Regions from separate parts of the Homo sapiens genome. Here region 1 is linked to region 2. Evidence: fine-mapped expression QTL. Tissue or cell type: esophagus mucosa. Region 2 holds a variant in brackets; the other region holds the start of a gene. All regions are shown on one strand. Distances are from middle to middle.

Region 1 (4,239 bases), 27 kb before region 2:
ATATTCCCATAAAATACAGTGAAAATTTAAATCGAAAGCAGCTGGACCCTGATGTATTGTTCTCTGAAAGAGGAAGATTCCACCTTAAAGGCAGTCATTCTATAGCAGTTCCCATTTCTTAGGTGCTTACTATATACCAGAAACGGTACTAAGAAGTGCTTTATGGACATTTAGCAAAGTGAATCCTCACAACCACCCTACGAGAGAGGTACTAGTATCATTCCCAGATGATAGATGTAATATTAATAAGCTACAGATGAGGAAATGGATGCTTGAAAAGTTTGAAGGGACATCTTAGGAATCAGTTATCTCCCCTGGGGAGGGACCTTCAGGAATGGCCTGATCCCTATCAGGAGAGCTGTCCGCTGTTCAGGATGTCAAAGGTTCCTGTTCTGCTTCTAGAAGTCAGCTTTTCCTGGGAGGAAAAGTGGGCATGGGCTGAGGTGAGAGCTGGGGTGCAGGTGGAGTATGAAGACTCCTCAGAGAAAGGAAATAAACAAAAAATATTTATTGAGCTTCTACCATGTATCAAACCCAGTCACTAGTCACTATTTTATCCTCAGACAGACACCTATAAACCTTTAAACCACGTGTGTGTGTATATATATATATATTATAAGAAAGCTTAGAGAGGATAAGTAAACTTGGGATCACACAGATGTCAACAAGGGGAGAAGCCTGTCCGGGTGTGGTGGCTCATTCCTGTAATCCCAGCACTTTGGGAGGCTGAGTGGGGAGGATCACATGAAGCCAGGAGTTCCAGACCAGACTGGACAAGATAGGGAGACCCCACTTCTATTTTCTAATAGAAATTAAAATAAAAAATAAAGAAAATTTCTTTATACATTGAGCTGAAATTAAACCCCACTGTGGCTTCCACCAATTTTTGCTCTCTGGAGCAACTCAAAACACATCTAAATCCTCTTCTACAAGCGAATCCTTTAAATATTTGAAAATACCTATGTCTCTCTTCTGTGCTCTTCTGGTACCAATAGTTTAAATGGGTAACAGTAGACTTTGTTTTATTCAATCTTTTAAAAAGCAAATAAAAAGTAAGACATGCTGGGTGCGGTGGCTCACGCCTGTAATCGCAGCACTTTGGGAGGCGGAGGTGGGCTGATCACGAGGTCAGGAGTTCGAGACTAGCCAGACCAACATGGTGAAACCCCGCCTCTACTAAAAATACAAAAATTAGCCAGATGTGGTGCACGCCTGTAACTCCAGCTACTCGGGAGGCTGCGGCCAGAGAATTGCTTGAACCCAGGAGACAAAGTTTGCAGTGAGCCGAGATCACGCCACTGCACTCCAGCCTGGGAGACAGAGCGAGACTCCGTCTCAAAAACAAAAAGTAAGACATTACCAATATGATGCCAACCCTCATGCACTCATCCCCAACCCCACACTTCTCTTCTCCCACCCCTTCTATCTGCTTTTGTATTTATTTAGCCTATGGGATCCCAATGCAGAGGAGCCCTGGTGGACGCATTTATAGTGCAGCGATGAATAGAAGACAGTGATAGTCTTATACTGGAGTTGAAATGTGATAAACATTTATACACTGTGTTTATAAGTCGTGTAACTCTGGCCAATTTATCTGGTCTTTCTAAGCTCACTTTCCTCGTCTGTAAAATGGGAAGAATAATCATACTTATTGCGCTGGTTGTTATGGGGATTAAGCAAGATAATTCTCTAAAGCTTTGGCACTTGGCGCTGAAAGTAGCCATTCCATGTCTTCTTTCCCGCCCCGCCTCTTGTGCTCCCCACCGCTTTCGTGATGTCCGCAGTTGCCCACCTGCCTCTACAATAAAAAACGCATCCCTCCTCCTGCAGGGTCCACCGCACCGGGAAGCCCTGTCTGTATCAGTTACCAACCACAATTGCAGTGAGTACGAATCGTGGCTTTCCCACAGTCAGGAAAGGCAAGGGAGACCGACGACCCGCTTCTCTAGGAGTAAGTAAAGATTAAAGGTAGTTCGCGGTATAGCCTAGGCAGGGATTAACCCGTGGTCCCAGCGCTCCTGCTATTTGCATTCCAAAGCAGACACCTCATGCGCTCAACCCCGCCCGCAGGCGGCTCCCGCAGTCTAAGGGACCTGGCGCGAGTCCGGGAAGCGGAGGGCGCAGCTGCGCAGGGAAGGGGGCCGGGGGCGGGACCAGGGCGCGCGTTCCGGTCCCGGGGCGTGGCCTCCCGCAGGTGAGTACGCTGCTCCTTCGGTTTCCCTGAAACCTAACCCGCCCTGGGGAGGCGCGCAGCAGAGGCTCCGATTCGGGGCAGGTGAGAGGCTGACTTTCTCTCGGTGCGTCCAGTGGAGCTCTGAGTTTCGAATCGGCGGCGGCGGATTCCCCGCGCGCCCGGCGTCGGGGCTTCCAGGAGGATGCGGAGCCCCAGCGCGGCGTGGCTGCTGGGGGCCGCCATCCTGCTAGCAGCCTCTCTCTCCTGCAGTGGCACCATCCAAGGTGAGAAACCTGGCCAAGGAGGGCTCTTATCTCTGAGGAGCTGGGGTCCTGGGCACGCTGGGCAGACGGTGGGATCCGGGCAGGTGTGCGAAGGCTGTTCTGCTGCCGGCACCCATCTCTACGAATCCCTTAGCCTCCCCTTGGTGGCTTTGATGTGAGGTCTCTGCGCCAAGGAGGCACCCAGGTGGGACATGCGGGAGCAGCTGAAGTCAGCGGAGCCGGGCAGAGGCAGAGATTTCCCCAAAGACCCCACTTCCCGTAGAGGCTGTCATGCTGGGCACCTCCAGGCCCCAGCGTGGGTTCGGGGAAAGGGAGGGAAGGAAGGAGTAGCTGTGTCTAAAGGGTACGCAGAGGACCTAGTCCCCTCCCCGGGCTTGGTTGCTTTGTAAACACTAAGTCATTAAGAGCTTTTTGCCAACTCCGGAGACTTCCTCCGCTGGCCCCGCGGGGCCGGTGGGGTTAGCGAGCTGATTGCGCAGGGCAGGGCGGAGTGGGTGGGAACCCGCGGCCCGGGAGCCTTCTAGGTTGTTTTTTGCGTCCCTCTCCAACTGCTGGAAGCCTTTCTTCGGGTTCTGGCCCCTGCGTTCGAGACCCACCCGGGTCCCGCTGCTCCTGGCACCCACAGTGGAAGGCCCGGGGTATGAAAGTCAGGGCCGGTCCCTGATGGGTTCTGGTGGTAATGAGCGCTCAGGCCCGTTGGGCGCCACGAGGATTTACGAGCGGAACTTTTTGGACCCTGCCTTATATTTGACCAGTTGACCCTCTGGGCCTGGGGTTCCGGGACTTTCCTAGTGTGCCACCCGGAGCGGCCACTGGCTGCCACCCAGGTCTGCAGGCCAGAGGCTGGCTGGCCTGGGAACAGAGCAGCACTTGCGCCCGGCCGTCGCGTTCCTTGGATGTGCTGCTCCGGGTGTGCTCGAACTTGTATTGCTGGGAGTGTGTTCTTCCGGGCCCAGCAGGCCTCGCTGTGGCCGTGGGGGATGTTTGACCTGCGATCGCGCCACTGTGATCCTAACCGAGGCCCCTCTGTTTGGGGCAGCCTGGGTAGCAAAGGGAGCTTTTAATTTCCCTCAGAAATGCGCATTTCTCACTTTTATCCTCCTCTTCATAAAGACGAAGTAAAAGAGCAAGTCACAGTGGGTTGGAATTAGATGGAAGAATGTGATTCTTTTCCCTCTGCAGTTAGGGAAAAGGGTGTTAATGGTGTAAGCTTGAAAACTGTGCACCGCTGGTATATTTTTTTTTCTTAATCAGCATCAGAATAAAGGCATTTAGTTCCAGGAAGTATTGAAAACTGTAATGGACACCTCTCCTCTATGTCCTTTAAAGTTGGAAACTTAAAATTCAGGAGCAAAGGTTAGTATGTGCAAACTTTAAAAAAATACATGTTGGTATAGCTGATTCAACATCTTTATGATTCAGAGATCCCTGTAGGAAGCATGCCCCGATTATTTGTCTTGTTCTTGTTTACTACTCTTGGGGGATTGGGAGATCCCTGGATTATAAGGCGAACTTGATTTAACAATAAGGAAAAATCAGGTTACTTGTTAACTATAGCCACTTAATATTGCACCTTGTTCCTCATCCTCCCCCCACCATACTTTTATTCCCTTGCAAAGTAACTTTCCCAAAGGGTTAGTGAAGTAACACTGACAATTGATTTAGGCAGATGGAGCTTTCCTCCCACCTTAAAACTAAATTGATTTTAATAAGAAATACAGTGTTAGCAAAGCTTTTCTGCCCTCAGGGTGGGTCTTTGCTCACTCGCTTTTTAGCCGGTCC
Region 2 (4,239 bases):
TGTATCTTTTTTTTTTTTTTTTGAGATGGAGTTTCGTTCTTTTTGCCCAGGCTGGAGTGCAGTGGCATGATTTCGGCTCACTGCAACCTCCACCTCCTGGTTCAAGCCATTCTCCTGCCTCAGCCTCCTGAGTAGCTGGAATTACAGGCATGCATCACCACACCCGGCAATTTTTTTGTATTTTTAGTAGAGACGGGGTTTTGCCATGTTGGTCAGGCTGGTCTCGAACTCCTGACCTCAGGTGATCCACCCGCCTCGGCCTCCCAGAGTGCTGGGATTACAGGTGTGAGCCACCACACCAGGCCATGACCTGTATCTTGTGCTGACCTCCTACCTCATCTTGTGACTTAGAGTGCCTGTCTGGGAATGCAGCCCAGTAGTGTTCAGCCTTATTTTACCCAGCTCCTATTCAAGGGTTGCTCTGGTTCAAATGTCTCTGACACCTAGTGGAGAGAATATAGATGAAGAAAAGAGGGCCCTGGACAGAGGCCTTCAGCATGTAGACTCTTTTGAGCAGAGGAAGGGCCAGTAAGAGACACTGAGAAGGACCAGCCACTATGGCAAGAAGAAAGTCCAGCAAATATGCTGTCAGGAAAGCCAAGGGCATAAAGGACAGAGTAATCAATCATGGTGAAAATTACTAAGAAGCCAAGTGAGATATGAACAGAGGAGTGACTACCTGAGCTTGCCCTTGGAGAATGTTGGTGACCTTGGCAAGACCACCCTCTCAGTGATGTGATGGGGAAAGGAAGCCAGAATAGTGTGTTCAAGAAAGAATTAGAAGGAAGGAAGTCCACACAATGACAGTGACAATCCCTTACAGCAATTTTAATTGTGAAAGGGAGCAGGGGAATGCGGAGGCAAGAAAGGCAATGAGAGTCATTCAGCAGAGAGGGAGACAGTGTGTCTTTGCATGTATTGTATTTCTATAAGTGAAGGTGGAAGGATCTCTTGAGCCCAGGAGTTCAAGGCCAGCCTGGGCAATGTGGCAAGACCCTATCGCACAATAACAACAACAAAAGTAGCCAGGGGAGGTGCTGTAAACATATTGTCTCAGCTACTTGGGAGGCTGAGGCAGGACGATCGCTTGAGCCCAGGAGTTAAAGGCTGTAGTGAGCTGTGATTGCACCACTGCACTCCAGCCTGGGCAACAGAGAGAGACTCTGTCCAAAAATAAAAATAAAAAAATAAGAAGTGGAACTTCTGGGTCAAAGGATACATGTAATTTTGATTGTGGTAAGTTGCCCTCCTAAGGTGTTGCACCAGTTACACACTTGCCAAAAATGTGTGTCTGTTTATCTAGAGTGTTGTAAACACCACATTTTCATGGTCTTTTATTTGCCAGTCTGAACTTCACAAATTTTGAGTGTAATGATAATGCAGGACCATAAGCATCTAGGAAGAAATAGAGCTTTGCTTTCTTCCTTTATTTACTGTTGGGAACAGGTCCCCCAAAATCTGGCCATAAACTGGCTCCAAAACTGGCCATAAACAAAATCTCTGCAGCACTGTGACATGTTCATGCTGGCCATAACGCCCACGATGGAAGGTTGTGAGTTTACTGGAATGAGTGCAAGGAACACCTGGCCCTCCCAGGGCGGAAAACTGCTTAAAGGCGTTCTTAAACCACAAACAATAGCCTGAGCGATCAGTGCCTTAAGGACATGCTCCTGCTGCAGATAACTAGCCAGACCCACCCCTTTATTTCAGCCCATCCCTTCGTGTCCCATAAGGGATACTTTTAGTTAATCCCATTTCCCATAAGGGATACTTTTAGTTAATCGAATATCTATAGAAACAATGTTAATGACTGGCTTGCTGTTAATAAATACGTGGGTAAATCTCTGTTCGGGGCTCTCAGCTCTGAAGGCTGTGAGACCCCTGATTTCCCACTTCACACCTCTATATTTCTGTGTGTGTGTCTTTAATTCCTCTAGTGCCACTGGGTTAGGGTCTCCTTGACTGAGCTGGTCTCGGCAATTTACTTTGTATTTTAGGCATATTTTCCCCCTGCTATTCCTCACCACCAAGGCAGTGACCCTCAAAAGGTACGGCCTTGCGGGAAGTTGGTCCCATTTCTCTTTGTATTAGCTCTGAGAGGAAACCTAAGCTATTCTTCTAGGTGGGCTGCAGAAAACTTCTGTGCCGTGTGGAACATCCTTTGCTCTGATGAGTTTTCTATCATTCTTTTTTGGAGAACATGAGGGCATGGCAGCAGCCACTACAGCAGGAGCCTGGAGTCCCAGCTCTGGGCCCTAGCCAGCTCACCTGCATATGAGGGATTAACTCTCAACACTGCTGGATCTGGCTCAGGTCTGAGTTCCTCACCTCAGCTCCACCATGTAGCCTGGGGTGAATG[G/A]CAAACCCATGGAAAGCGTTTAATTATAGCTTCTATGTACCATCGGGTAGACTCAATTACCTAATCCCGAGAAAGCAGTTTTAGCCAAGCCTTATGTTGTGAACTCTTTCAGAGGCCACCTGGGCTCTTGCAGGGGAACTGTGTCTAGTTCTTACCAGTGGAAGTCAGACTTTTTTCTTTAACCAGAGATTTGTGTAAATGGGAGACTTTGTTAAAAATATAACAGATTTATCAGAATTTATGGCTTAAAAAATTGCAGCACAGGGAGGGAAATGATGGTGTTTATTCTAGTGACCATTTCTGTCCATTAAAACTGAAATTCTTTTTTTTTAATCTTTTTAAAAACTGTGTTTTTTTTTTTGAGACAGAATCTCGCTCTGTTGCCCAGGCTGGAGTGCAGTGGTATGATCTTGGTTCACTGCAGCCTCTGCCTCCTGAGTTCAAGTAATTCTCCTGCCTCAGCTTCCCTAGTAGCTGGGATTACAGGTTTCCGCTACCACACCTGGCTAATTTTTGTATTTTTAGTAGAGACGGGGTTTCACCATGTTGGCCAGGCTGGTCTTGAACTCCTGACCTCAAGTGATCCACCTACCTCGCTCTCCCAAAGTGCTGGCATTAGAGGCATAGGCCACGGTGCCCAGCCTAAAAACTTTATGTTTGTTTGTTTATTTTATTTTATTTATTTATGTATTTTTCTGAGAGAGAATCTTGCTCTGTCTCCCAGGCTGGAGTGCAGTGGTGCCATCTTGGCTCACTGCAACCTCGGCCTCCTGGGTTCAAGCGATTCTCCTGCCTTATCCTCCCAAGTAGCTGGGATTACAGGCGCCCACCACCACGCCTGGCTAATTTTTGTATTTTTGGTAAAGACTGGGTTTCACCATGTTGGCCAGGCTGCTCTAGAATTCCTGACCTCAAGTGATCCGCCCACCTCGGCCTCCCAAAGTGCTGGGATTACAGGTGTGAGCCACTGCGCCCAGCCCTAAAAACTTTATTATGGAGGATTTTATACCCATACAGAATTAGGATTGTATAGGGAAACTCTATGTCTCCATCACTCAGGCCCAATATCCATCAACCTTTGGTCAATTCTGCCCCATCCTCCTCCCCATCCCGTTTATTCTGAAGCAAATCTCAGGAATCATATTATTTCACTCGTAAATGTTTCAGTGTCTAAGACAAGAAATTTAAAAATCATACCTCAAAAAATTTCTTAATATCAGATATCCTGTCAGTGTTCAAATTTCTACTCATCTCAATTATCATAAGTGGTTTCTTTTTTTAAAAAATCAGAATCTAAATAAAGCTCAGACATTGCAATTGGTTGATGACTTTTAAATCTCTTAATTTATCTCCACCCTCACCACTTGCTACTTACTTGTTGAAGAAACCAGGTTGTTTGTAGATTTTCCCCATAGTCTGGATTTTGCTGATTGCATCCAGAACTGGAAAGTGTGAAAGCATATTAGAGGAAATGAAAAGGCTCTGCCGATCGAGAACTCTGGTTATACAACTGTTCACAAGCACTTAGCAGGAACAACGAGGAATGCTAAAATTCTTATCACTGTGCCCTCTTATGTGGTGCCTGCCTCATGGTGATCTTAATGTTCTCCTAAAGATAGGGAAGAACAGGACCCTAGACCACAGTCTTGTGCTTGGGAGCTACACTTGGACAGGAATCACCACCCAAAACTGGCAATGCAGACAGATTACATGTGTTTTCTTCCGCAGATTTGTTCTGATCTCCCCAGACATCCGTCATTCTATAATCCTACAGTTTGGACCTTCTTAGTTTTCACTTTCAGGTGGGAAAGACTAGTAATTAATTAATTAATTAATTAATGCTTTTATAGAGACAGGGTCTGGCTCTGTCACCTAGGCTG

Evidence for each region. PIP is the estimated chance that this variant, and not a neighbour inherited with it, causes the effect.
Region 1: it holds the start of F2RL1, and the variant in region 2 is fine-mapped to the expression of F2RL1 in esophagus mucosa (GTEx, PIP 0.98).

The regions. Positions count from the first base shown.
Region 1 is chr5:76,816,808-76,821,046 of GRCh38, forward strand. It overlaps F2RL1 (F2R like trypsin receptor 1), which reads left to right and starts at 2,223. Exons shown (of 2, transcript NM_005242.6): 1 at 2,223-2,457. The coding sequence starts at 2,376. RefSeq lists enhancers at 1,939-2,556, 2,557-3,174 and a silencer at 1,957-2,251.
Region 2 is chr5:76,843,734-76,847,972 of GRCh38, forward strand. No RefSeq gene overlaps it. Among named protein-coding and RNA genes, the nearest start is that of S100Z, 4.2 kb to the right of the region's middle. The variant G/A (reference allele first, on the strand shown) is at 2,360.